7 linked regions of the Homo sapiens genome follow. The protein of the gene in region 4 purifies or fractionates together with the protein of the main gene of each other region. This does not show direct contact. Each region holds a gene or a part of one and is shown on either strand. Other genes may lie near its edges. The genes, in order: MANBA, MST1R, MAN2B1, NCR3, MSLN, ITGAV and NLRP2.

Region 1 (3,500 bases), on a different chromosome or scaffold from region 4:
CTAATACAGAGAGGGTGAAGGAAGGCTTTCTCTCTTTTCTTTTTCCTTTTTTTTTTTTTTTTTGACACAGGTTCTCACTCTGTTGCCCCGGGAGTCACACAATCATAGCTCACTGTAGCTTTGAACTCCTGGGCTCAAGCAATCCTCCTGCCTCAGCCTTCTGAGCAGCTGGCACTATAGGCATGTGCCACTCACCTAGCTAATTTTCTTTTTACTTTTTGTAAAGATGAGGTCTCACTTTGTTGTCCAGGTTAGTCTTGAACTCCTGGCCTCAAGCAATCCTCCAGCCTCTACCTCCCAAAGCACTGGGATTATAGGCATGAGCCACCATGCCTGGCCAAGGAATGCTTTCATTAGAAAGTGGTATCTAGCTGAGACCAGAAGGATGCCTCAGCTAAGTACAGAGGAAGATGATAAGGATTCTGGGCACAGAGAAGCATGTGAAGGCCCATGAGTGAGACAGCAATGCCATAACAAGGAAAACAAGGAACTTGGGCAATAACAAAATTGATGAGGGGGTCAGCATAATTGAAAAGTTGAGCACGGTCCAAATGACACTGGGTCTTTTCGAACAGGTAAGGAGTCTGGCAATTTCACCCCAGATCAATGCGGAGTCATTGAAGATTTTTCATCAAAGAGCATGACCAGATCTGCATTTTATAAGAATTGCTAAAGGTCCCAGCACAGTGATATACAAGGATGAATATGAAAGAAGCAGAAAGATATAAAATCTCTCTGTGTACAAAAAGCCCCAGAAAATGCCACTTGGAAAAGCCAGGAACAGAGAGGAGGCAAAGAAGAGTGTTGATCAGAAAGAAGAGAAAACAAGACCGAAGAGGAGAATTATAGGGAAAGAAGAAAGATGAGGGATGAACTTTGGGTGCAGAGTTTGGGGTTGTCAGAATGTTTCGAAGAGGTTTTGAAGTAGAGTTTTATATACGCGCAGTATGACTCTGTCCTCCATTTCCTGTCAAATTTATATTGTTTGTATAATGTCTCCGGGTTTGGTTTTGTGTTTAGTTTTTATTTTTAAACAAGATAGAGCACTGGGACAGACTTGGGACAAGAGCTGGGTGGAAAAACAGACCGTTTTTTAAAGTTACGCAGAAGAAACTGGTCATGAGATCTCAAAAAAGCTTGGAGGTACAGGGGGTTAGAGTCAGCAAAAAAAGTTCTCATTCTTTGCTGCCACAGAAAGAAAGGAGAAGAGCAGTGACTGTGCAGAGGCATTTAAGTTTCTATGATTCGTGGCAAAGTATGGAGGGAGTTCCTATTTAGTGGCTTCTATTTTTCTCCAAAGGAAGGGGAGGGGGAAGGCTACTAGCTGAGAAGTATCTTAGAGACCTTTCTCCTACAAATAAAGAAGAGATTAATAATCATGGCTTTGCTGCAAAAGAAAAAAAAAAAAGCTAGGTTTCTATGCTGATCAATGACAAAAGACGTTATAACCGGCACTGTTTACAACTGTAGGAGCACACCAGGCCTGTTCTAAAGATGACCCCAGCACAGTTTATCATTCGCATCTCCCATCAGCCAAAAGCATAGATTTGATGCACATTGAAGTAAAATTAATCCTGGACTTAAGAACTATTTTTGTTTATTAAGTGATTTATTCTGAGAAATACTAGTCGATGAGCTCTGAGTTAGGTTTGTTCTGATCCAGTTAATTTTGCAGGTTACTTACCGATAGCCTCCAGGTTTTGAATCTATCAGCTGGTAGATCACCTAGTCTGCTCGCTCACCAGTGTTTAATTTCCTCTATTCAATAGGTTGTCAAACTATGGTCTTTGGGACAAATCTAGCCCACCTCTTGTTTTTATAAATAAACTTTTATTGGAACACAGATGTTATGGACTAAATGGTGGACTCTTCCCCTAAAATTCTTATGTTGAAGCCCTAACCTCCAGCTTTTTATGAAGTAATAAGGGTGGGGCAGTAATCTGTTAGGATTGCAGCCTTATAAGAAGAGGAAGAAACAGATATCCGTCTCTCTCTCTACTATGTGAGGACATAGCAAGAAGGCATCTGTCTGCAAGCCAGGAAACGAGCCCTCACTGGAAACCAAATGGGCCAACACCTTTATCTCGGACTTCCCAGCTGCCAGAACTACGAGAAATAAACTTCTGTTATTTAAGCCACTCTGCCTATGGTATTTTCTTAGGGCAGCCAGAGCAGACTAACTTAATAGTCATGCTCATTTGTTTACTTATTGTCTTTGGTTACCTTTGCAATACAACAGTAGAGTTGAGTAGTTGTGACAGATGCCTAAACTATTTTACTATGTGATCCTTAAGAGAAAAAGTTTGCTAATCCCTGCCCTAGAATATTACCCCCAAAAAAGGCCATTCCAACCTTTCTTTAAATATCTCTAATGACAAAAAAACCTCTGCCTCACAAAATAGCCTTCCCATTTTTGCCAGGCTTGGCTATTGTAAAGACTCCCTTTACACTGAATTTGAAATATACTTCTCCTTAATATCCAACTAAAGATTTTAGCTCTGTCCTTTGAGCACCTCCTACCAACGAAGCAGGCTCCTGTGTTGTTTTCTGTTACTTCTTCTTTAGTAGGAGAATCAGCTGTTAGTGACAGCCTCTGACAGGAAAACAAATAATGCAATCCTCAAAGGTCATCGGCAAAATTCCCCAGTTTCTCTTGCTTTGAACTTGGAAGGTTCTCGAGCAAGTCCGCACTCCTCCAGAGCATCACCCGTTAACACCCCTGGGAACTACTAAATGAAAAAACTAAGGTTGTAGAATTAAAAACACAGTATGAAGATCTACAAGCCTACAAAGTTATCACCAGATATACTTAATAACATATTTTTCCCCTCTCCTCTTCTTTCAAATAGAGTAAACCCCTTCCTTCCAGTAGCACATGGAAAAGTAGGTAATTTAGGTTCACAAGGCGCAAAGTCTTAAATAACCAGTAGTTTTCCTGATGTTCTTTGGTCACTCCTTTTCACTTGCTAAATTAAATTTATAAATTGCATAATCCTATTTGTAGTTAAGAAGAACTCCATCTTATAAATTAAGCCCCATTTCTAGAATACAGCTTCCTATCATCTCTCTCCTAGCATTAATAAGTCACCATGTCTTGAAGAACACTTATCATCACCAGCTCTCCTGAAGTAAAATGCAAGATCACTTCAAAAATGGATGAAGTACTGGGGGTGAGGGCAGGAAAGAAGGATTGCTACATCTTCTAGAATCCCCTACAGAGCTCATCCTTCCAATCACACCACCAAGTTCTGCATCCTCTCTTCACTTTGACTAAACAACTCAGCACAAAGAGGACAGGAATTCTTTATCAAAACAGGTGCAAAGGCAATGCTGGCCTGCCCTCTCCACAATTCAAGGCCTTGAGGCCCTCCCTGGCCTGAAGGCTTATTGGTGTCCTCGCTGATGTCCTAAGCCCAAGCAGAAGAGATTATGTTCTACAGTTTGTTCATATAACCTCAATCAGGAAGGCAACCCAGAGGATGGTAGAGAATGTGGTTCTG
Region 2 (3,500 bases), on a different chromosome or scaffold from region 4:
GGGTGAAAGAGTGAGACTCCCTCTCAAAAAAAAAAAAAAAATAAAATAAAATAAAATAGGCTGGGGGCAGTGGCTCATGCCTGTAATCCTAGCACTTTGGGAGGCTGAGGCGGGCGGATCACCTGAGGTCAGGAGTTCGAGACCGGCCTGGCCAACATGGTGAAATCCTATCTCTACCAAAAATACTAAAAATTAGCCGGGTGTTGTGGCAGGCGCCTGTAATCCTAGCTACTCAGGAAGCTGAGACAGGAGAATCACTTGAACCCGGGAGGAGGAGGTTGCAATGAGCCGAGATCGCGCCATTGCACTCCAGCCTGGGCAACAAGAGTGAAATTCTGTCTCAAAAAAAATAATAATAATAAAATAGAATAAAAATAAAAATAAAATAAAATAAATATAATAAAACAGGCTGGGTTCGGTGGCTCATGCCTGTAATCCCAGCACTTTGGGAAGGTTAGGCAGGCAGATTGCTTGAGTCCAGGAGTTCGAGGCCAGCCTGGACAACATGATTCGAGGCCCATCTCTACAAAAAATAAACAAAAAATTAGCCAGGCATGGTGGTGCATGATTGTAATCCCAGCTACTCAGGAGGCTGAGGCAGGAGGATCACCTGAGGCTGGGGAGGTCGAGGCTGCAGTGAGCCATGATTGTGCCATTGCACTCCAGCCTGGGTAACAGAGTGAGACCCTGTCACAAAAACAAAAACAAAACCATAAATAAAACCAAAAACAAACAGCAGCCACTTGATGGCAGAGGCTACAATCTTCCTATGCCTGATTGATCCACACCAGAACCCACTGAAGACAGAACTTTTCTCATCCCCATTTTACAGATGAGCAAATGGAGGCTCAGAGAGGTTAAGTGGTATACCCAAGGTCACACAGGTTGGTGAGAAGGTTAGAGCAGTATCTGTTCCAACTGTCCCTTTAGCCCATGTCATTTTTTTTTTTTTTGAGAAGGAGTCTCGCTCTGTCGCCCAGGCTGGAGTGCAGTGGTGCAATCTTGGCTCACTGCAAGCTCCGCCTCCCGAGTTCATGCCATTCTCCTGCCTCAGCCTCCCAAGTAGCTGGGACTACAGGCGCCTGCCACCATGGCTGGCTAATATTTTTTTGTATTTTTAGTAGAGACGGGGTTTCACTGTGTTAGCCAGGACGGTCTCGATCTCCTGACCTCATGATCTGCCCGCCTCGGCCTCCCAAAGTGCTGGGATTACAGGAGTGAGCCACCACGCCTGGCCTAGCCTATGTCATCTTGAGACTCCATCTCTGCCCCAGCCCCACCTGGCCCCCACACCTTTGCCAATGACTCGGTCACTGTGGGTGACCACCCGCTCATGGGGAATCAGCACATCCTTGACCTCAGCCAAGAGCGCAGAGTCCAGGTCCCTTAGCTGGATGGACTCTTTCCGCAGCAGTGGCACACAGGATTCATCTTCACTATCGGAGAAGGATGCTCCATGGACACAAGTGGTGGAATCCAGACCATCAATGGCAGGGAGTGCTGTGGGGAGAGGGAATGAGGAGCTTGTAGGGACAGGGGGTGGCTTTAGCTTCTCATGCCTCCACTATCTCACCAAGGCCACTTCTGTAGTCAGAGCCCGAGTACAGAATAGGCAGGGGTGTGGCTCCAGCAGTCTGGTCCAGGGATGCCAGGTCATTCAGGTTGGGAGGAAGAACTGTGGAAAGAGAATCCTTGGTGGCTTGGCTTTCCAAGCTCCTAGGGGCCGACCCCTCTGGGGAGGACTTAGATCCCTAAGTCCTGGGCAGAGAGAGGATGTAGGGACTTGAAGATGCCATTGGTTGGGGGTAGGGGCTGATTAAAGGTAGGAGCAGAGAACTCACCTAGCTGCTTCCTCCGCCACCAGTAGCTGAAGACCAGTGCAGTCGCCAGTGCAGCCACAAGCAGCAGCAAAGGCAGCAGGATACCAAGGAGCGTGCTCTGTGGGACCCCATCTGGCCCTGGCCGCACCACTCTACCCAGGATATGACATTCACCATCTACGCAGACCTGGGGGCAGGTGGCAACTCAGGCCCAGCCTGTAGGCCCTCTGCCCGTGTTTCCCAGGGAGGTCCAGCTGGGCTGCCTACCTGCAATGGGGCACCATCCTGGCCAAGCTGCAGGGATGGGGGCAGGGGGCAGACAACCATGTCCCCCCGGAACTCGTGCTGGCAGCTCTCACCACCCACGGTCACGTTGATACCCACACAGTCAGCCACAGCGCCCAGCCCAATATACTGCAGAGAGGGTCATGAGGACCAGCCAGTAGGCTGGCCCCTACTTTCAGATCCCCAACTGTCCCTGCCCCTATCCCTTACACTTACCTCAAACTTAATGGCATGCTCCTCAGGCTTCAGTGGAACTAGGTTGGCACTGGGTGGATGGGGTGGGGGTAGGAAGCGAAAGCCAGGCAGTGTAAAGCCAGCAGCTCCATCCCCTCGGGCACTCAGATTCCCTGCCACCCATCCCTGGGGGTCTCGGACCACATATTCAGGAAGGCGGCACAGCTGCTGCTCTGGAAGCTGCCTCTCACACTGCTGGGACCAATATGAGAGTGATTAGCCAGGAACCCCACCTGTGATTGCTCCTCGCCTCAGCCCAGCACGAGGTTGGGCTGCAGCTCAGGGAACTCATCCAGCCTTCCTCCCTCCTGGCCAGCACTCACTCACCCTGCTTTCCACTGCCCTAAGCCCGTCATGGAATGACAGCACTAAGTGCCATGCTGAAGTTAGATGCTGGCCACAGATGGTGATGTGGGAGTTGCTGTGGAAGAGGGTAGGGTGGTAGGCTTTGGGTGTTCTCCAAAGCTGGCTCTCTCATTCCCCAGAGGCCAGAGTGGGCAAAGAGGCAGTGCTTACATGTAGCCACAGTTGGGGCTGATGCTTAGCACGACAGGGTCTTCTCTGTACTGGAAGGTCCAGGAACCAGGTACCTGGGCACCCCCCACCTGCAGGCTAAGGGGGACACTGGCCACCGTGGCCCCAGGGGGTGTGGCACATAAAAGCTGCCCCTCACTGACCCTACAGGAACAAGAGATTGGGCTCAAGGTTACCCTCTTTGTGATGGCCAGGCCCACTTCTTCCAGGGGCCTGTTGACCTCTCCCAGTTCGTCTGTTATCTCTCCCACCTGCCCCACTCCATGGTCTGTCTGAAAATAAGGTGGTCCCAGGAAGACATCCCAAGAGGGTAAGGAGGGAACAGGTTCCCCACAGCCTTGGCTGGAGCCATTGGACTCTGTGATGGGCTCTCTTGCCTCTGGGCTGAAGAGGGCAGTAGTCTTTTCTTCCTGGACCTGCTCTCCACACCACACTGACCATGTAACAAGCACTCTTCCCTCCATCCTGACAGAATCCGGGTCCCCACCTGGATAGAACCCTGCGGCCTCCCATGCCTGCCTGGTGGTACTTACCGTGCTAGCAGACACTCAGTCCCATTGACCAGCACAGCCCGGCTGGTGCCTACAGACAGACTCTGGCCTTCAAGAGTGAGACAGGTGCCTCCTG
Region 3 (3,500 bases), on a different chromosome or scaffold from region 4:
CCCGGGAGGCGGAGGTTGCAGTGAGCCAAGATCACGCCACTTTCTGCACTCCAGCCTGGGCGATAGAGCGAGACTCAGTCTCAAAAAAAAAAAAAAAACAAAAAACCCAGGCCAGGTGCAGTGGCTCACGCCTGTAATCCCAGCCCTTTGGGAGGCCAAGGCGGGTGGATTACCTGAGGTCAGGAGTTGGAGACCAGCCTGACCAACATGGCGAAACCCCGTCTCTACTAAAAATACAAAAATTAGCCAGGCATGGTGGCATGTGCCTGTAATCCCAGCTACCCAGGAGGCTGAGGCAGGAGAATTGCTGGAACCCAGGGGCAGAGGCTGTAGTGAGCAGAGATTGCGCCCCTGCACTCCAGCCTGGGCGACACAGCAAGTTTCTGTCTCAAAAAAAAAAAATAAAAATCCGGCTGGGCACAGTGGCTTATGTCTGTAATCCTAGTACTTTGGGAGGCCAAGGTGAGCAGATCACTTGAGTTCAGGGGTTTGAGACCAGCCTGGCCAACATGGTGAAACCCTGTCTCTACTAAAAATATGAAAATTAGCCAGGCGGGGTGGTGGGCACCTGTAATCCCAGCTACTTGGATAGCTGAGGCACGAGAATCACTTGAACCCGGGAGGTGGGGGGTGCAGTGAGCCAAGATTGCACCACTGTACTCTAGCCTGGGCTACAGAGTGAGACTCAGTCTCAAAAAAAAAAAAAGAAAAAAGAAAAATTAAAAAAAGAAAACACACACACATACACACACAAACCCATCTGTGGACCCTTTTCTGCCCAGCACATCCGGGCAACGTTTGATCCTGACACAGGGCTGTTGATGGAGATTATGAACATGAATCAGCAACTCCTGCTGCCTGTTCGCCAGACCTTCTTCTGGTAAGGGAAGATCACCAGGCCTGAGGGTGGGGTGGTGGTGCTCGGCATGGAGCTAGGGCCCCTTACCTGACTCTCACCTGCCCCAACTCCAGGTACAACGCCAGTATAGGTGACAACGAAAGTGACCAGGCCTCAGGTGCCTACATCTTCAGACCCAACCAACAGAAACCGCTGCCTGTGAGCCGCTGGGCTCAGATCCACCTGGTGAAGGTCAGGGACTAGGAATGATGAGTGGGCAGTTGGGAATGGGGAAGTTATGGAGCCCAAGAGGGTGGTGGGCCATGTGTAGAGTGAGGGTAGGGGAGGATTTACTTTTCCTTCAGATCAGTGGGCTAAGACCCACAGATCAGCGGGGGAAATATTTGAGGGTCCTTCCATAGAATTGATATTCATAGCTGGTCGTATGAGAGTCTCCCCATAGGACACATCATACAAAGCCATTCACATCTGCTGTGGACGTTTACATACTTAGTTTTGGAAATTGGGGGTGGGGCATTCCCACTTGGCCCATGAATCAGGAGAGCCAAATATCACTGCTTGAAGAATTCACCAAAGTCTGTAGTAAGAGGAGCTTCTATCTGGAGTGAATATTTGAGAGTCCACCCTTGGATTGATTGGGTTTGGGTGAGTCTCAGGGTGAATGCCTATGGGTGCATCTGGCTAGGAACAGTGGTTTCCCAGGGCCTCTCATTGATGTTTGACTTTCATAGATGACAAAACTCACATTTGTCCACATTCAAGAGCCTCGCGTTTCATGTGAGTCCCTTTGAGATGAATGTCTGCATATCTGTATATAGTTTTGCCTGTTCTAACAGAGTTACCCAAATTAACTGTGACTAGAATAAGATAGAAGATTATTTTCTTCTAACAAAAAGTCTGGCTGTTAGTCCAGAGAAAGTGGGGTGGTTCCATAATCACCCAGGACCTCCTCTTCTATCTTGTTGCTCTGCCTTCCCCAATATTCAGTTTCCACCTCATGGTCCAAGATAGCTGCTGAAGCTCCAGCCGCCACATTTGTGTTTGAGTCAGTAGCAGAGGGACAGGGGCAAGGAACATTGTTGACACCACTTGGATCACTTTCTATGGGGCAAACTGGTCACTCAGCTACTGATAGCCTCAGGGAAGACTGGACAATATAGTCTTTATCCCAGGTAGCCATGTGCCAAGCTAGAATCCTATTCTATGGGGCAATGGTGAACAGGAGGCGTTTATGCCACGCTCAAGAGTGATGTGGTAAGCCAGATGCAGTGGCTCATGCCTGTAATCACAGCACTTTGGGAGACTGAAGCAGGAGGATCGCTGAGCATAGGAGTTCAAGACCAGGTGGGAGCATTTGCTGATTAGGTGCCTACATAGTGATGCCCTGTCTCAAAAAAAAAAAAAAAAAAAGAGGCCGGGTGCAGTGGCTCACGCCTGTAATCCCAGCACTTTGCGAGGCAGAGGCAGGCAGATCATCTGAGGTCAGGAGTTCAAGACAAGTCTGGCCAACATGGATAGAAACCCCGTCTCTACTAAAAATACAAAAATTAGCCAGGGGTGGTGGCAGGTACCTGCAATCCCTCTACTCGGGAGGCTGAGGCAGGAGAATTGCTTGAACCCAGGAGGCGGAGGTTGCAGTGAGGCAAGATTGTGCCACTGCACTCCATCCTGGGCAACAAGAGCAAAACTCTGTCTCAAAAAAAAAAAAAGAAAAAAGAATTATGTGGGCCAGGCGCGGTGGCTCACGCCTGTAATCCCAGCACTTTGGGAGGCCGAGGCGGGCTGATCACGAGGTCAGGAGATCGAGACCATCCTTGCTAACACGGTGAAACCCCATCTCTACTAAAAATACAAAAAATTAGCCGGGTGTGGTGGCGGGTGCCTGTAGTCCCAGCTACTCGGGAGGCTGAGGCAGGAGAATGGTGTGAACCCGGGAGGCGGAGCTTGCAGTGAGCCGAGATCGCGCCACTGCACTCCCGCCTGGGCAAAAGAGCGAGACTCCGTCTCAAAAAAAAAAAAAAAAAAAGAATTATGTGGCGGTGACTGAAGGTTGACCTTGATGTAGGCCTTAATGGGGTTTATGGCCAGGGTTGGGGGACATTTGTAGGACTCACCTCTGCTCAGGTACAGACTGACATCCACCTCACCCGTGTGCCCGCAGACACCCTTGGTGCAGGAGGTGCACCAGAACTTCTCAGCTTGGTGTTCCCAGGTGGTTCGCCTGTACCCAGGACAGCGGCACCTGGAGCTAGAGTGGTCGGTGGGGCCGATACCTGTGGGGTGAGTGGCACAGGCTGGGAGAGGGGTGTGGAAGCAAGGGCAGAGGGGTTTATCCAAGGCTCACAACCTTGCCATCCCATTGGGTACAGCGACACCTGGGGGAAGGAGGTCATCAGCCGTTTTGACACACCGCTGGAGACAAAGGGACGCTTCTACACAGACAGCAATGGCCGGGAGATCCTGGAGAGGAGGTGGGGGGTGACTGAGAGCACTGAGGGGGTGGTCTGTGGTGTGTTGGGGCCCAGGGGTGGTGAGGGAAATTTGCTGATTACATGAGTGTGGGAGACAGAGGACGAAGGGAGAGTGAAGGGCGGGGGAGCCAGGCAGGGTGCAGTGGCTCACGCCTGTAATCCCAGCACTT
Region 4 (3,938 bases):
CTGGTCTCGGACTCCTGACCTCAGGTGATCCTCCCACCTCAGCCTCCCAAAGTGCTGGGATTACAGGCATGAGCCACCACGCCCAGCTGAATGTTGTTTTCCTGCCTGCTAACATAACATCCATCCTGTAGTCCATGGTTTAAGGAGTAATTTAGACTTTCAAGTCTCATTATTTAAGAAATACATTTCGCCAGGCATGGTGACTCATGCACTTTGGGAGGCCTAAGTGGATGGATTGTTTGAGCCCAGGAGTTGGATACCGGCCTGGGCAACACAGGGAGACCCCATCTCTACAAAAAATACAAAAATTAGCCTGGTGTGGTGGTGTGCGCCTGCAGTCCCAGCTACTCAGGAGACTGAAGTGGGAGGATCAACTGAGCCCTGGAGGTTGAGGCTGCAGTGAGCCGTGATGGCGCCACTGAACTCCAGCCTGGGTGAGACAGAGCCAGACCCTGTCTCAAAAAACCAAAACAGGAATCCCAGCACTTTGGGAGGGCGAGGCTGGTGGATCACTTGAGATCAGGAGTTGGAGACCAGCCTGGCCAACATGGTAAAACCCTGTCTCTACAAAAAATACAAAATTTAGCTGGGCTTGGTGATGTGCGCCTGTAATCCCAGCTACTTGGGAGGCTGAGGCAAGAGAATTGCTTGAACCCAGGAGGCAGAGGTTGCAGTGAGCCGAGATTGTGCCACTGCATTCCAGCCTGGGCAACAGAGTGAGACTCCAGCTCAAAAAAAAAACAAAAAACAAAAAAACCCAACCAAACACACACACACACACACACACACACACACACACACACACACACACACACACAAGGTGATTGCTATGCAAATTAAATATAGCTTCACCAATCAGCTTGCTTCTCCTAATCCCTCATAGAAATCTTGGAGTAGCCCTGGGGTGCAGTGAGGCCAGATTCCAGGAAGGGAATGGGTGGGATGGGTCTGGGTACTGGTGAGCAGCAGGGAGGGTAAGTAGGTTAGCTTCTGGGCCAAGGAGGGCTCCTGGAGGCTTGTTCTGGGTAAAAGCTGGTCTCCTTGAACCTCGGAAGGTGGGGGAACCCACATCCTGGTCTCACCCGCCCAACCGCCCACTCACCCTTGGGTTAGCAGCCATCTAAGCCCCACCCTCCCCCTCACACGCTTAGCTAGCCTGCCACAAGCTGGCCCCTTGGCCTCCTAGAGACCCTGACATCTCCTCCAGCAGCATCTGTCCTCTCTCCTCAGGGAGGCAAGCATTTGATGCTCGAGGTCCCTGGCAGTTGTGGTCCTTGGCAAGTGATGTGTGAGTCCCGTGTGTCATAGGAAGCTCCCCATCCCCATCTGGTGACCAAAGGCCTGGCTACAAGTAGTGAGTCCTTCCTCCTCCACCCAGACCTCACTGCTCAGATCCCCTTCGCCAACTGGGACATCTTCCGACATGGCCTGGATGCTGTTGCTCATCTTGATCATGGTCCATCCAGGTGACAGGGCGTGCGCTCAGGACCCCAAGGAGTGTGGGTGGGAGGAGGGAGATCCAGGAGGCTGGACTAGATGCTATAGGGAACGGGCTTGGTGGGGGCTGAAACACACGGCTCTGAGGGAGGAGTGGGACTGCTCCAAAGGTGACACTCAGTGGACTCCCCCAATTCACAGTCTCTCTGTGTCACCCACTGTGAGGCTTTTTAGTTTGAGAGATCCAAGTAAATCTATGATAAATTTCTTGGTGAAACTTTTTTTTTTTTTTTTTTGAGACTGAGTCTCGCTCTGTCGCCTGGCTGGAGTGCCGTGGTGCGATTTTGGCTCACTGCAACCTCTGCCTCCCATGTTCAGGTGATTCTCCTGCCTCAGCCTCCTGAGTAGCTGGGACTACACGCACGCACGACCACACCTGGCTAATTTTTTTTTTTTTTGAGACGGAGTCTTGCTCTGTCACCTAGGCTGGAGTGCAGTGGCATGATCTTGGCTCACTGCAACCTCTGCCTCCTAGATTCAAGCAATTCTCCTGCCTCAGCCTCCTAGGTAGCTGGGATTACAAGCGCGCACCACCACACCCAACTAATTTTTGTATTTTTAGTAGAGACAGGGTTTTACCATGTTGGCCGGGCTGGTCTTGAACTCCTGACCTCAGGTGATCTGCCTGCCTCGGCCTCCTAAAGTGCGGGGATTACAGGCCTGAGCCACTGCGCCCAGCCATTTTTGTATTTTTAGTAGAGATGGGGTTTTGCTATGTTGGCCAGGTTGGTCTCAAACTCCTGATCTCAAGTGATCTGCCTGCCTCGGTCTCCCAAATTACTGGAATTATAGGCATGAGCCACTGCGCCCGCCTGGTGGTGAAACTTTTTTTTTGAGACAGTTTCATTCTGTTGTCCAGTCTAGAGTACAGTGGCGGTATCTCAGCTCACTGCAGCCTCCACCTCCTGGGTAAAAATGATTCTCCTGTCTCAGCCTCCCAAGTAGCTAGGATTACAGGTGCATGCCATTACTGCTGGCTAACTTGTGTATTTTTAGTAGAGACGAGGTTTCACCATGTTGGCCAGGCTGGTCTCAAACTCCTGACCTCAGGTGATCCACTCGCCTTGGCCTTCCAAAGTGTTGGGATTATAGGCGTGAGCCACTGCACCCGGCCGAAACTGTTTTTAATGAACTGAGAGACCTTAACTATCAGGCATATTATTAACTAAATGCAGGAGTTCTCAAAATGTGGATTTCTGGGAACCTAGAACAAATTCTTAGGCCCCACTCCAGACCTACTGAGTCAAAAACTCGGGGGGTAGGCCCAGGAATCTGTTCTAGCAGATGCTCCAGGTAATTTCCATACACACTCAAGTTTGAGAACCACTGAAATAGAATGACTTGTAAATTTCCCTAAGTAGATAATTTAATCAGGGATTTTAATATTTGGTTTAATTCATCAACATGGACGGGTTAAATAGGAATCTCAACCAATTAAGGCCACGTCTTCACCTGGAGATTTAATTAGTTACTTTCTTTAACGAAAACCAAGAGTGGCTGGGTGCACTTTGGGAGGCCGAGGCAGGTGGATCACTTGAGATCAGGAGTTTGAGACCAGCCTGGTCCGAGGTGGGTGGATCACTTGAGGTCAGGAGTTTGAGACCAGATGGTGAAACCCTGTCTCGACTGAAAATACAAAAATTAGCCAGTCGTGGTGGTGGGTGCCTGTAGTCCCAGCTACTTGGGAGGCTGAGGCACCAGGATCGCTTGAACCCAGGGGACGGAGTTTGCAGTGAGCCAAGATTGCACCACTGCATTCCAGCCTGGGCAACAGAGCAAGACCCCATCTCAAAAAAAGAAAAAAGAAAAAGAGGAAGGATGGCTTACTGTACAATGCCATTTGTACTAAAATAATACCTGGATAATATAATGAGTGATATTAGTTAACTAGGCAGCTGCATTCATTAATGAGCTTAATTTCACCATGATGGTTTACATTTCAGCTAGACAAGTTACTACTGAACTGGCTGGAGAATGATGGCAGAGGGTGAGAGTGAGAGTTGGTATAGGAAGAATTTGAAAAATGATTTTTATTTTTTATTTTTTGAGATGGAGTCTTGCTTTGTCGCCCAGGCTGGAGTGCAATGGCGCAATCTTGGCTCACTGCAACCTCTGCCTCCCGGGTTCAAGCGATTCTCCTGCCTCAGCCTCCCGAGTAGCTGGGATTACAGGTGCACACCACCATGCCCGGCTAATTTTTGTATTTTTTTAGTAGAGACGGGGTTTCACCATGTTGGCCAGGATGGTCTCGATCTCCTGACCTGGTGATCCGCCCACCTCGGCCTCCCAAAGTGCTGGGATTACAGGCGTGAGCCACTGCACCCAGCCGAAAAATGATTTAATAAGCAATGTTAAGAAATCAGATTGGTTAAGAGGGAAGGGTTTAATGAGGCACCCAAAGTATCTATTCCCATGCACCCTATGCCTGGAGAAAGCTGGGA
Region 5 (2,814 bases), on a different chromosome or scaffold from region 4:
TCTGCCCCTCAGCCCTTCCCAATCTCATGCCACATGACCCCCGAGCCGGACGGTCACCTGAGGACTCATTTCGTGCCCTTTGTTGACTTCAAGCAAAGCCTTCAGGGTCTCCAGGGACGTCACATTCCACTTGCGAATGTCCTCAGGGCTCATCTTGAGGAAGAGGTAGCCCAGGTGCTGGATCACAGACTCGGGGTAACCTTGTGGGTAGAGCTGCAGGCCAAGAGACCAGGAGGGCCCATGTCACTCCCAGAGGGGCTGGGGATGGCTTGGACACAGCAGGCCGGTGGGAACTTGAGTCATGAACTACCTCATCCAGTTTATGCTTTAGGACGTCCAGCTGCTCGTAGGTGAAGGGGATGGCGTTCACGCGGTCCATCTGGGTGGCCAGCAGGGCCGCATCCACGCAGGCTTCCAGCTCCCACTTCTTGTAGAAGATGAGGCTCTCGTCTATCTCGCGGGCCTTCTTGCCTGAAGGACAGGCTGTCTCTGCAGGGCACAGGGGTCAGGGGTCAGGGCCGGAGTTCGTTTGACCCCTTCTTCCTCCCACACCTCCTGTGAGATGAGACCTCGGGCCATTTGTGACCCTCCCTGTGCCTCAGTTTACCCACTGGCAAACAGGGATTCTGTCCACTCTCTGTGATTATAATGGGATGTGCTGCAGAGCCAGGGAGGGGCAGGTGAGACCCTAAAGTGATGCCCACCCCCAGGGGTGCTGCCCAGCCTGGTGCCAGACTGCGCAGGGCACGGCACTCACTCTCCACTTCCCGCCGGAACCGCGGCCGGAGGATGGTCCGTTCAGGCTGCCGCCAGGATGGGTCCCGAGAGGAGCGTTGCCGCCACGCGGCCACGATGCCCTGAGGACGAGCAGGACCTGGGCTGAGCCTCGGGTGGCCGGGCATCCCCACGGGCTGGGGATTGGGGTCTCACCTGCGGGATGCTGCGGATGATGGGCTGGCCCAGCACGGGCAGCAGGCCCCGCAGAGCGTCCATCGTGGAGACAGACCATGTCGACGGGGGGCTGTGCAGACACGGGACACAGCTCAGGGACCCCCCACGTGCAGCCCCAGAGAGGGAAGAGGCCAGGCCGTACCCCCTGGCTGTGGAGGGGACGCTGGGGGCATTGGCAGGGGTGGTGGCGGGGGTGACTGACCCTGGGCCTTGAGGCATGGCCGCAAGTGTCCTCACGCTGCTGATACCACGCCGCCAGGTGAGCCTTCGAGGTTCCAGACACCTTCACTTACCCGTAGGGGGGTCCCCCGCCCTGCAGAGCCGCCCTGGCTGCCTCCTGCTGGTCCTGGTCCAGGGGTCCCGGGCAGCTCACCAGCCGGGGTAGCAGCACTTCGGCCGACTCGGCCACAAAGCGCCCAGGCAGGTCGCAAGCCAGGCCTCCCAGAGCCCGCACATCAGCCTCGCTCAGCAGAGACCCCCGCACACCCTGCAGAGAGGCTGGCCTCAGCGCTTTTGGAACTGCCGAGCCCTCTCCGCCCCGCGCTGGCCCCAGCCCCTACCCAGCAGGCCAGAGCCGCAGGCAGCAGCCGCTGTCGCTCGGGAGCCCCCCTCGGGAGCAGGTCCACATTGGCCTTCGTGATGCGGGAGAAGAAACGGGTGCAGGCCTGGGGCCCCGAGAACGCATCTGGGCTGTGAAGAGAGGGTGCTGGGGACAGGCCGCACTGATCACACCCGTCCCCACCCTGAGAGGCAGCCCGGCCGGCCTCCACATCTCTGCTGTGGCCTGGGATCCGAGGCAAGGGGCAGGGGGTTGGGGGCTGAGGGCTGGCGGCAAAAGCCGGGGGGGTGGGTTCAGGGGGCAGGGCCTACTTGAGGAATAGCAGCAGGTCCAATGGGAGGGCGTCCAGGTCCTCGGGGGGCTCAGAGAGCCGGTGAGCCAGACAGCGCAGCTGCAGGGGCAGGGAGTCCAGCACAGAGCGTTTCGAGCCGCCACTCACATGGTGGGCCAGGGTCGCCTGGCCAGTCTGCCCACCACAACACACCCCTGCCCTGGCCACGAGAATCTGTGGAAGTGGATCTCTGGCCGCCTGCAGCGCTGCCCTGGGGGATGGGGGCTCCCGTGCCTGGCTCCGCTCCCCTTCCCCAGATCTCACCCACTCCCCCGAAAAAGATTCACCCTTGGGGCAGAGCCTGGAGGGCTGCCCACGGCGCTCCAGGAGGGGGCCCAGCACACAGCGTCATATCAGACTTGCTCCTGGGGAGCCAGCCCCTGACGTGGACAGGCACCCCAGTGGTCAGCTTGGGTGGCCAGAGGAACTCTGGGAAGAACTGGCCGGGGAGAGATGGCAGCAGGGACAGAGGGGACCGTGGTGGCAAGGTGGGCACTGCAGAGCTGCCTGTGAATTCCTCAGCCCCAGCTGTGCCCACCTGCCTCAGCCCAACTGAGACTGACCTGCTCTGTTGAGAGCTTGACATTCTTCTGTGCCAAGGCCACAGCCAGCTCCCGGACACGCTCCGTGCTCAGGCCGGACACCTCCGCACACGGGAAGCCAAGGAGTTGGCGAGGGGAGAGGCTGCAGGAAGGGTCGGGCTGGGCACCCACGATCGCCCCTCCCCTGCAATGTCCACCCAGTGCTCCCCAAGCCCCACAGCCCCACCTCTCCCCAAAGGACCCTGGTGCTCCCTGCAGACCTCCCCCCAAGACCAGGTGACGCCCTCAAGGGCCGGGAGTTGCCATCACCTGAGGGGTGTCAGTCCCTCCCGCAGTCCTGAGCCCAGTCAGATCTGAGGTGGAGCAGAGGAGGAAGGGGGAGGGGATGCTGGGGGATGGGGTGCCCTGCCCACCCTCAGTCCCGAGGGCCC
Region 6 (2,173 bases), on a different chromosome or scaffold from region 4:
CCATAGGAATTTACGGTGGTGTATTATGCTACTTCAGTATAATTTCCCAAGCATCTCAACACTTAATTTTCTTCTTGGTACTTTTCATTTATAAAAATAGGTATTTTTATACTAGAATTGCATATGTATATTGCAACTGCATATATGCAATGACATATATACACTATAATTAAAAATTATAAAAGATGTAAATGTGCATTTTAAAAGGAATCTGATAATGTAAAAATAATAAAGGTTAGCATAATGAATTTAGAAATGTTTGTTTAGAAATAAAATAATTCTTATATTTCAGGCAAATACATATTTGCCTTTCTAAGGATGAATTTTAATGTGGTACATTTTGCTCTTTTTGTGTTTCTTTTCATCAAATAACTGACATTCAAGATTTGAAGTTTTACAGAAAGTTACCTCTGAGGTCATCCTTTTAGTGCATTATTGCTAGCTCATGTAATCAAAAAACAAAAACACGTCACAGAAAGGATAAACCCCATACACAAAAGTGGTACCATATGCTTATGTTTATTGTACAGTCACAAGTTACATGTTGTAAATCAAGCAGAACACTGTACCAGTTTTCACTAACTCAAATCAAGTTAGCAAATTACAAATTTTAGAACAGATTCATTTTCTGTCTCACCCAATGTGGGTGACCACAAAGATATTTACTTTCTATGTTATTAGGTAGCAAATTAATTTGATATACTACACAGCTTCCAAGTTACCTTAGGATATTTCAAAGTGTTTCAAAACTGGTAAAGAATAATTCATTTCCAGCCTGAAATACAATGCAGAATGGACCATTTAGGGGTAAATAACCTCACTTAATCACTCTTTCCTGCTAACAAAAATAATACAAATATTTGTTTATATTAGGCTTACTAAATTAATGACAACTTTGAAATTATCTAGATTTGGTTACATTGTTATATTGCACTTGAGAACAATGACAAAAAACATCAAAGATTCAGTACCTCTCCCAAGAAGTTCATTATATATCAGAAATTAAAATGAAATATAAGCATATATTGCATGCTGCATATTTCTATCGTTCAAACCAGCCAACCAACAAACTAAAAGGAATACTCTCCAAAACACTGAGTATTAAGTAATTTCATCTGCCTTTTTTGATCCTACAATCATTTTTCAAATTTTAGGTGTTTTTCTTTAAATTATTCATCAAACTACTACATATACAAGCTATCCAAGAATGCAAACAAGGTGACATTGAGATGGGTAGTGGCTGCACATAGGTATTCCAAGAACGACTCATTCTTCTCCACCAAGCTCATCATTACATTTTGCAACTTAGGAAGATCTGCCAACTTACAAATTCTGTTTGCCTTACAAAAATCGCTGATCTATTATATACAATACTTTTATCACACAAATCTCTCCCTTAGGGTCATGATTCACTATCAAAAATCTTTCACAGCCCTCTTAAGCCAGTAAAGTCTCTTTTATTAATACTTGAGTTTTCTTTATGGAAATGTAAGTGTTAATGAGAATTAACTATGAATAAGTAGTTTCATAACACAGGTAGAATGATGGCAATAATATTTTGACTAATTGTTTTACCTTTCAGATTCAGAATTACAGTGATAATCGTTAAGAGAAAAGAGAAACAGAAAAAATGACTCACATGTATTTTTCTCAAAATATCAATTCTGAAATAAATACCTATATAAAAATCAATATCAGTATCAATATTTCTTACCAATGTCAAATGTTTTTAATATCTTCTAGTTCATTCATGTTTTCTTAAAACTGAATCAGATCATAAAAATTTTACATTTCAAAATGGATTTTTATTCTCAATAAATCACAAATATGGTAGTATTTCAAATGTTTTAGAGATTTAAAGTTTTCATAGGGCAATTTTTTGATATTTAATCATGATAAAAAAAAATCCCACCATTTTCTTCAGAAAGTAGGCTTTCAAATTACTCTTCTCCATATTTTTGTAGATATATAAATGTTCATTTTTTGAAGGAAAATCTATGCTATTATACAAAACTATATTTCATAAAGGTAATTTAAGATATCATGTTAATTTCTAAATTACAGCATCTTTCAATCTCCAATACAAGATTACTTTCAAGATAGATGCCATAAAAGGAATAGATGGCACAAAAGCAAATTCTAACACTTTTGCCAAAGAGTGACTTTCTATCCA
Region 7 (4,225 bases), on a different chromosome or scaffold from region 4:
CCTGGGGTGATGGGAGAAGGTAGCCAATCACAGCTGAGGCTTCTAAGCGGTGATTCTCAGCCTCGGCCGCAATCACAATTATCTGGGACTCTCGAAAGAACTCCAGGGTCTGGGCAGTCCCAGTGTAACCAATCAAGCAGAATCTCTAGGCGTTCGTGCTTTGAAATGAGGCTCCACATAGGTAAGTTTAACAGGCAGTCAAGATGGAGGACCACAGGTGGAGATCGGGAAGCTCAGGTGAAGGACCGCCCCCCAACACCCCCCGCCCCCAAAAGACCTCTCAGTAATTCCGGTGGATACAGGAAGTGCTCAGCAACGATTACGCCCCGAGGGCCAATCACAGGGCTGCGGCCGAGAAAGAAGCCTTAATAGAGCTTTCTCAACCTGCAGCCCTCATCTCCGCCGGCGAGTAGGGCCAGGTGTTGGGAGGTGAGTAGCTCTCCGGCAGCTCTGCAACTTCATTTCTTTATTTCTCCATTCCACAGTTGGTAAAATTTCTCCTTTTATTTCATATATTTTTTTTCTGAGACGGAGTCTCGCTCTGTCGCCCAGGCTGGAGTGCAGTGGCGCGATCTCTGCTCACTGCAAGCTCCGCCTCCCGGGTTCACGCCATTCTCCTGCCTCAGCCTCCCGAGTAGCTGGGACTACAGGCGCCCGCCACCACGCCCGGCTAATTTTTTGTATTTTTAGTAGGTGGCTCACGCCTGTAATCCCAGCACTTTAGGAGGCTGAGGCTGGCAGATCACCTGAGGTCGGGAGTTTGAGACCAGCCTGGCCAGCATGGCAAAACCCCGTCTCTATTGAAAAAAATACAAAAATTAACCAGGCGTTGTGGCGCATGCTTGTAATCTCAGCTACTCGGGAGGCTGAGGCAGGGGAATCACTTGAAGCCGGCAGGCGGAGGCTGCGGGGAGCCGAGATCGTGCCGTTGCACTCCAGCCTGGGGAACAGAGCAAGACTCCATTAAAAATAAAATAATAATAATACTGTGAATGTGAAACTGATGAACTTGGTGCTTTTCATGCGTCTCATAGTTGACGTGTCATTGATATTTCACTTGAAATACGGTTGGATTTTTATTAATAATATACCTGGGGTGATGGGAGAAGGTAGCCAATCACAGCTGAGGCTTCTAAGCGGTGATTCTCAGCCTCGGCCGCAATCACAGTTATCTGGGACTCTCGAAAGAACTCCAGGGTCTGGGCAGTCCCAGTGTAACCAATCAAGCAGAATCTCTAGGCGTTCGTGCTTTGAAATGAGGCTCCACATAGGTAAGTTTAACAGGCAGTCAAGATGGAGGACCACAGGTGGAGATCCGGAAGCTCAGGTGAAGGACCGCCCCCCAACACCCCCCGCCCCCAAAAGACCTCTCAGTAATTCCGGTGGATACAGGAAGTGCTCAGCAACGATTACGCCCCGAGGGCCAATCACAGGGCTGCGGCCGAGAGAGAAGCCTTATTAGAGCTTTCTCAACCTGCAGCCCTCATCTCCGCCGGCGAGTAGGGCCAGGTGTTGGGAGGTGAGTAGCTCTCCGGCAGCTCTGCAACTTCATTTCTTTATTTCTCCATTCCACAGTTGGTAAAATTTCTCCTTTTATTTCATATATTTTTTTTCTGAGACGGAGTCTCGCTCTGTCGCCCAGGCTGGAGTGCGGTGGCGCGATCTCGGCTCACTGCAAGCTCCGCCTCCCGGGTTCAGGCCATTCTCCTGCCTCAGCCTCCCGAGTAGCTGAGACTACAGGCACCTGCCACTATGCCCAGCTAATTTTTTTGTATTTTTAGTAGAGACGGGGTTTCACCATGTTGGCCAGGCTGGTCTCAGTCCGCCTCGGCCTCCCAAGGTGCCGGGATTACAGGCGTGAGCCACCGCGCCCAGCCTTTTTTTTTTTTTTTTTTTTTTTTTTCTTCTCTTTTTTGAGGGTCTTACTCTGTTTCCCAGGCTGGAGCGCTGTGGCAGGATCTCGGCTCACTGAACCCTTGACCTCTCAGGTTCAAGCAGTCCTCACGCCTCAGCCTTTGAAGTAGCTGGGACCGTGGGAGGGTGCCACCACATCTGTTCTGGCTAATAATATTATTATTACCACTGTTTGCAGAGACTCACTAGATGTAGGGTCTTAATATGTTGCCGAAGCTGGTCTCTAACTCCTGGGCTCAAGCGATCTTCCTGCCTCAGACTCCCAAAATTCTGGGATTATAGGCAGGTGCCACCGCGCCCGGCCTAAATCTTTTCTTCTGTTAGAAATTAAGTGGTTCTGCCTGTCTCAGTGGCTCACGCCTGTAATCGCAGCGCTTTGGGAGGCCGAGGCGGGAGGATCACCTGAGGTCGGGAGTTCGAGACCAGCCTGACCAACATGTAGAAACCCCATCTCTACTAAAAATATAAAATTAGGTGGGCGTGGTAGCGCATACTTGTAATCCTAGCTACTCAGGAGGCTGAGGCAGGAGAATCACTTGAACCCGGGAAGCGGAGGTTGCGGGGAGCCTAGATCATACCATTGCTCTCCAGCCTGCGCAGCAAGAGAGAAACTGTCTCAAAAAATAAAATAAAATAAAATTCAGTGGTTCTGACTGGGGAAAGAGTAGCAGATGCTTAGATCTAGAGAGACTCTAGTTAAGGTTGGCTCATAAGAGGATAGTTGTGTGTGCTTTTATTTCTGTTCTCTTGGGGGATTTAGGATAGAGCTATAGAGAGCTCCAAAAAAAAAAATATATTGGAACAGGTCAGATGCTGTGGTTGCTGTGTGTGGAGTCCTGGGCAGTGCTAAGGTTTTGTGTCTAATGAGTCCTCTTAACAAGAAGGTATTGTTTTTTATTCACTGAGGTGAGGGAGCCTCTTAGCATCATTCTAGTCCAGCTTCCGGACCTGAGTCTTATGCAAATACCTATGCCAGTTGCCATTCTCACGCTATTCACAGCTATCATATAAAGAGGTGTTATACCCTTTCTGTAAAGTTTTTGTTGCTACTGCTATTTTTTTTTTTTTTTTTTTGAGACAAAGTCTAGCTCTGTTTCCCAGGCTGGAGTACAGTGGCGCTATCTCAGCTCACTGCAACTTCCACCTCCCAGGTTCAAGCAATTCTCGTGCCTCAGCCTTCTAAGTAGCTGGGACTACAGCCGCCTGTCACCAACCTGGCTAATTTTCGTATTTTTAGTCGATATAGGGTTTCACTATGTTGGCCAGGCTGGTCTCAAGCTCCAGACCTCAGGTGATCCTCCCACCTTGGACTCCCAAAGTGCTGTGATTACAGGCGTGAGCCACCGCACCCGGCCCTGTTGTTTTTAAAATAGAGACAGGGTCTTAAGTTGCCAGGCTGGTCTGGAACTTCTGGACTGGAGTGATCACCCACCTGAGCTTCCCAAAGTGCGGGGATTGCAAGCGTCAGCCACCACCCCCAGTGTTGTGTTTTTGTTTGTTTTACCAGGCTGGAGTGCAGTGGTGCGATCACAGCTCACTGCAGCCTTAACTTCCCTGGCTCAGGTGATCCTCCCACCTCAGCCTCCTCAGTAGCTGGGACTACAGGTGCATGCCACTATGCCCAGCACAATTTTTTTTTTTTTTGTATTTTTTTGTAGAGACAGGGTTTTGCCATGTTGCCCAGGCTGGTCTCAAACTCCAAGCAATCCTCCCACCTTGGCTTCCCAAAGTGTTTGGGGTTCCAGGTGTGAGCCATGGCCCCCCGGCCAGCTTCAGTAAAGTAAAAGCCACACACCTGTGTCCTGAGACCAGGCTCCACCACTAAGTTATCTTTAAGCCTTTTTTTTTTTTGAGACAGTTTCACTCTTGTCGCCCCAGGCTGGAGTGCAGTGGCGCCATGTCAGCTCACCACAACCTCTGCCTCCCACTCCCAGGTTCAAGCGATTCTCCTGCCTCAGCCTCCCAAGTAGCTGGAACTACAGGCACCTGCCACCACGCCCGGCTAATTTTTTGTATTTTTAGTAGAGACGGGGTTTCACTGTGTTAGCCAGGATGGTCTCGATCTCCTGACCTCACGATCCGCCCGCCTCGGCCTCCCAAAGTGCTGGGATTGCAGGCGTGAGCCACCGCGCCCGGCTGTGTGTTTGCATTATCATATTCAGCCCAGTTTTCACGAAGTTTCTTGTCTCCTGGGTGATCCACGTAGCTCCCCACTTCCTTATCTGATCTATGCTTGTCCTTTCATTGTTGTGTTACTACTTTGCTATAATGAGAGAGTGTTTTCGCTTTATAGGTTAACTTTTAGAACCTG

Evidence for each region.
Region 1: the proteins of NCR3 (region 4) and MANBA purify together in Homo sapiens (affinity purification with mass spectrometry; one large-scale study listed by BioGRID and IntAct). This does not show direct contact.
Region 2: the proteins of NCR3 (region 4) and MST1R purify together in Homo sapiens (affinity purification with mass spectrometry; one large-scale study listed by BioGRID and IntAct). This does not show direct contact.
Region 3: the proteins of NCR3 (region 4) and MAN2B1 purify together in Homo sapiens (affinity purification with mass spectrometry; one large-scale study listed by BioGRID and IntAct). This does not show direct contact.
Region 5: the proteins of NCR3 (region 4) and MSLN purify together in Homo sapiens (affinity purification with mass spectrometry; one large-scale study listed by BioGRID and IntAct). This does not show direct contact.
Region 6: the proteins of NCR3 (region 4) and ITGAV purify together in Homo sapiens (affinity purification with mass spectrometry; one large-scale study listed by BioGRID and IntAct). This does not show direct contact.
Region 7: the proteins of NCR3 (region 4) and NLRP2 purify together in Homo sapiens (affinity purification with mass spectrometry; one large-scale study listed by BioGRID and IntAct). This does not show direct contact.

Annotation. Positions count from the first base shown.
Region 1 is NC_000004.12:102,691,469-102,694,968, forward strand, and holds part of MANBA (beta-mannosidase precursor), read right to left. Parts: intron 1-3,500.
Region 2 is NC_000003.12:49,893,874-49,897,373, forward strand, and holds part of MST1R (macrophage-stimulating protein receptor isoform 1 preproprotein), read right to left. Parts: coding exon 3,407-3,500; intron 3,018-3,406; coding exon 2,856-3,017; intron 2,761-2,855; coding exon 2,667-2,760; intron 2,535-2,666; coding exon of another isoform or gene 2,532-2,534; coding exon 2,322-2,531; coding exon of another isoform or gene 2,247-2,321; exon of another isoform or gene 2,235-2,246; coding exon 2,088-2,234; coding exon of another isoform or gene 2,008-2,087; coding exon 1,842-2,007; intron 1,676-1,841; coding exon 1,574-1,675; intron 1,501-1,573; coding exon 1,294-1,500; intron 1-1,293. UniProt on the Homo sapiens protein: Receptor tyrosine kinase that transduces signals from the extracellular matrix into the cytoplasm by binding to MST1 ligand. Regulates many physiological processes including cell survival, migration and differentiation.
Region 3 is NC_000019.10:12,649,743-12,653,242, reverse strand, and holds part of MAN2B1 (lysosomal alpha-mannosidase isoform 1 precursor), read left to right. Parts: intron 1-782; coding exon 783-880; intron 881-972; coding exon 973-1,090; intron 1,091-3,020; coding exon 3,021-3,139; intron 3,140-3,228; coding exon 3,229-3,330; intron 3,331-3,500. UniProt on the Homo sapiens protein: Necessary for the catabolism of N-linked carbohydrates released during glycoprotein turnover. Cleaves all known types of alpha-mannosidic linkages.
Region 4 is NC_000006.12:31,590,207-31,594,144, reverse strand, and holds the start of NCR3 (natural cytotoxicity triggering receptor 3 isoform a precursor), read left to right. Parts: upstream 1-1,138; 5' UTR 1,139-1,423; coding exon 1,424-1,466; intron 1,467-3,938. UniProt on the Homo sapiens protein: Cell membrane receptor of natural killer/NK cells that is activated by binding of extracellular ligands including BAG6 and NCR3LG1. Stimulates NK cells cytotoxicity toward neighboring cells producing these ligands.
Region 5 is NC_000016.10:763,734-766,547, reverse strand, and holds part of MSLN (mesothelin isoform 1 preproprotein), read right to left. Parts: intron 2,526-2,814; coding exon 2,405-2,525; intron 1,902-2,404; coding exon 1,822-1,901; intron 1,642-1,821; coding exon 1,512-1,641; intron 1,439-1,511; coding exon 1,245-1,438; intron 1,022-1,244; coding exon 931-1,021; intron 858-930; coding exon 758-857; intron 490-757; coding exon 311-489; intron 214-310; coding exon 58-213; intron 1-57. UniProt on the Homo sapiens protein: Membrane-anchored forms may play a role in cellular adhesion. Megakaryocyte-potentiating factor (MPF) potentiates megakaryocyte colony formation in vitro.
Region 6 is NC_000002.12:186,679,229-186,681,401, reverse strand, and holds the end of ITGAV (integrin alpha-V isoform 1 preproprotein), read right to left. Parts: 3' UTR 501-2,173; downstream 1-500.
Region 7 is NC_000019.10:54,964,949-54,969,173, forward strand, and holds the start of NLRP2 (NACHT, LRR and PYD domains-containing protein 2), read left to right. Parts: upstream 1-1,425; 5' UTR 1,426-1,519; intron 1,520-4,225. UniProt on the Homo sapiens protein: Suppresses TNF- and CD40-induced NFKB1 activity at the level of the IKK complex, by inhibiting NFKBIA degradation induced by TNF. When associated with PYCARD, activates CASP1, leading to the secretion of mature pro-inflammatory cytokine IL1B.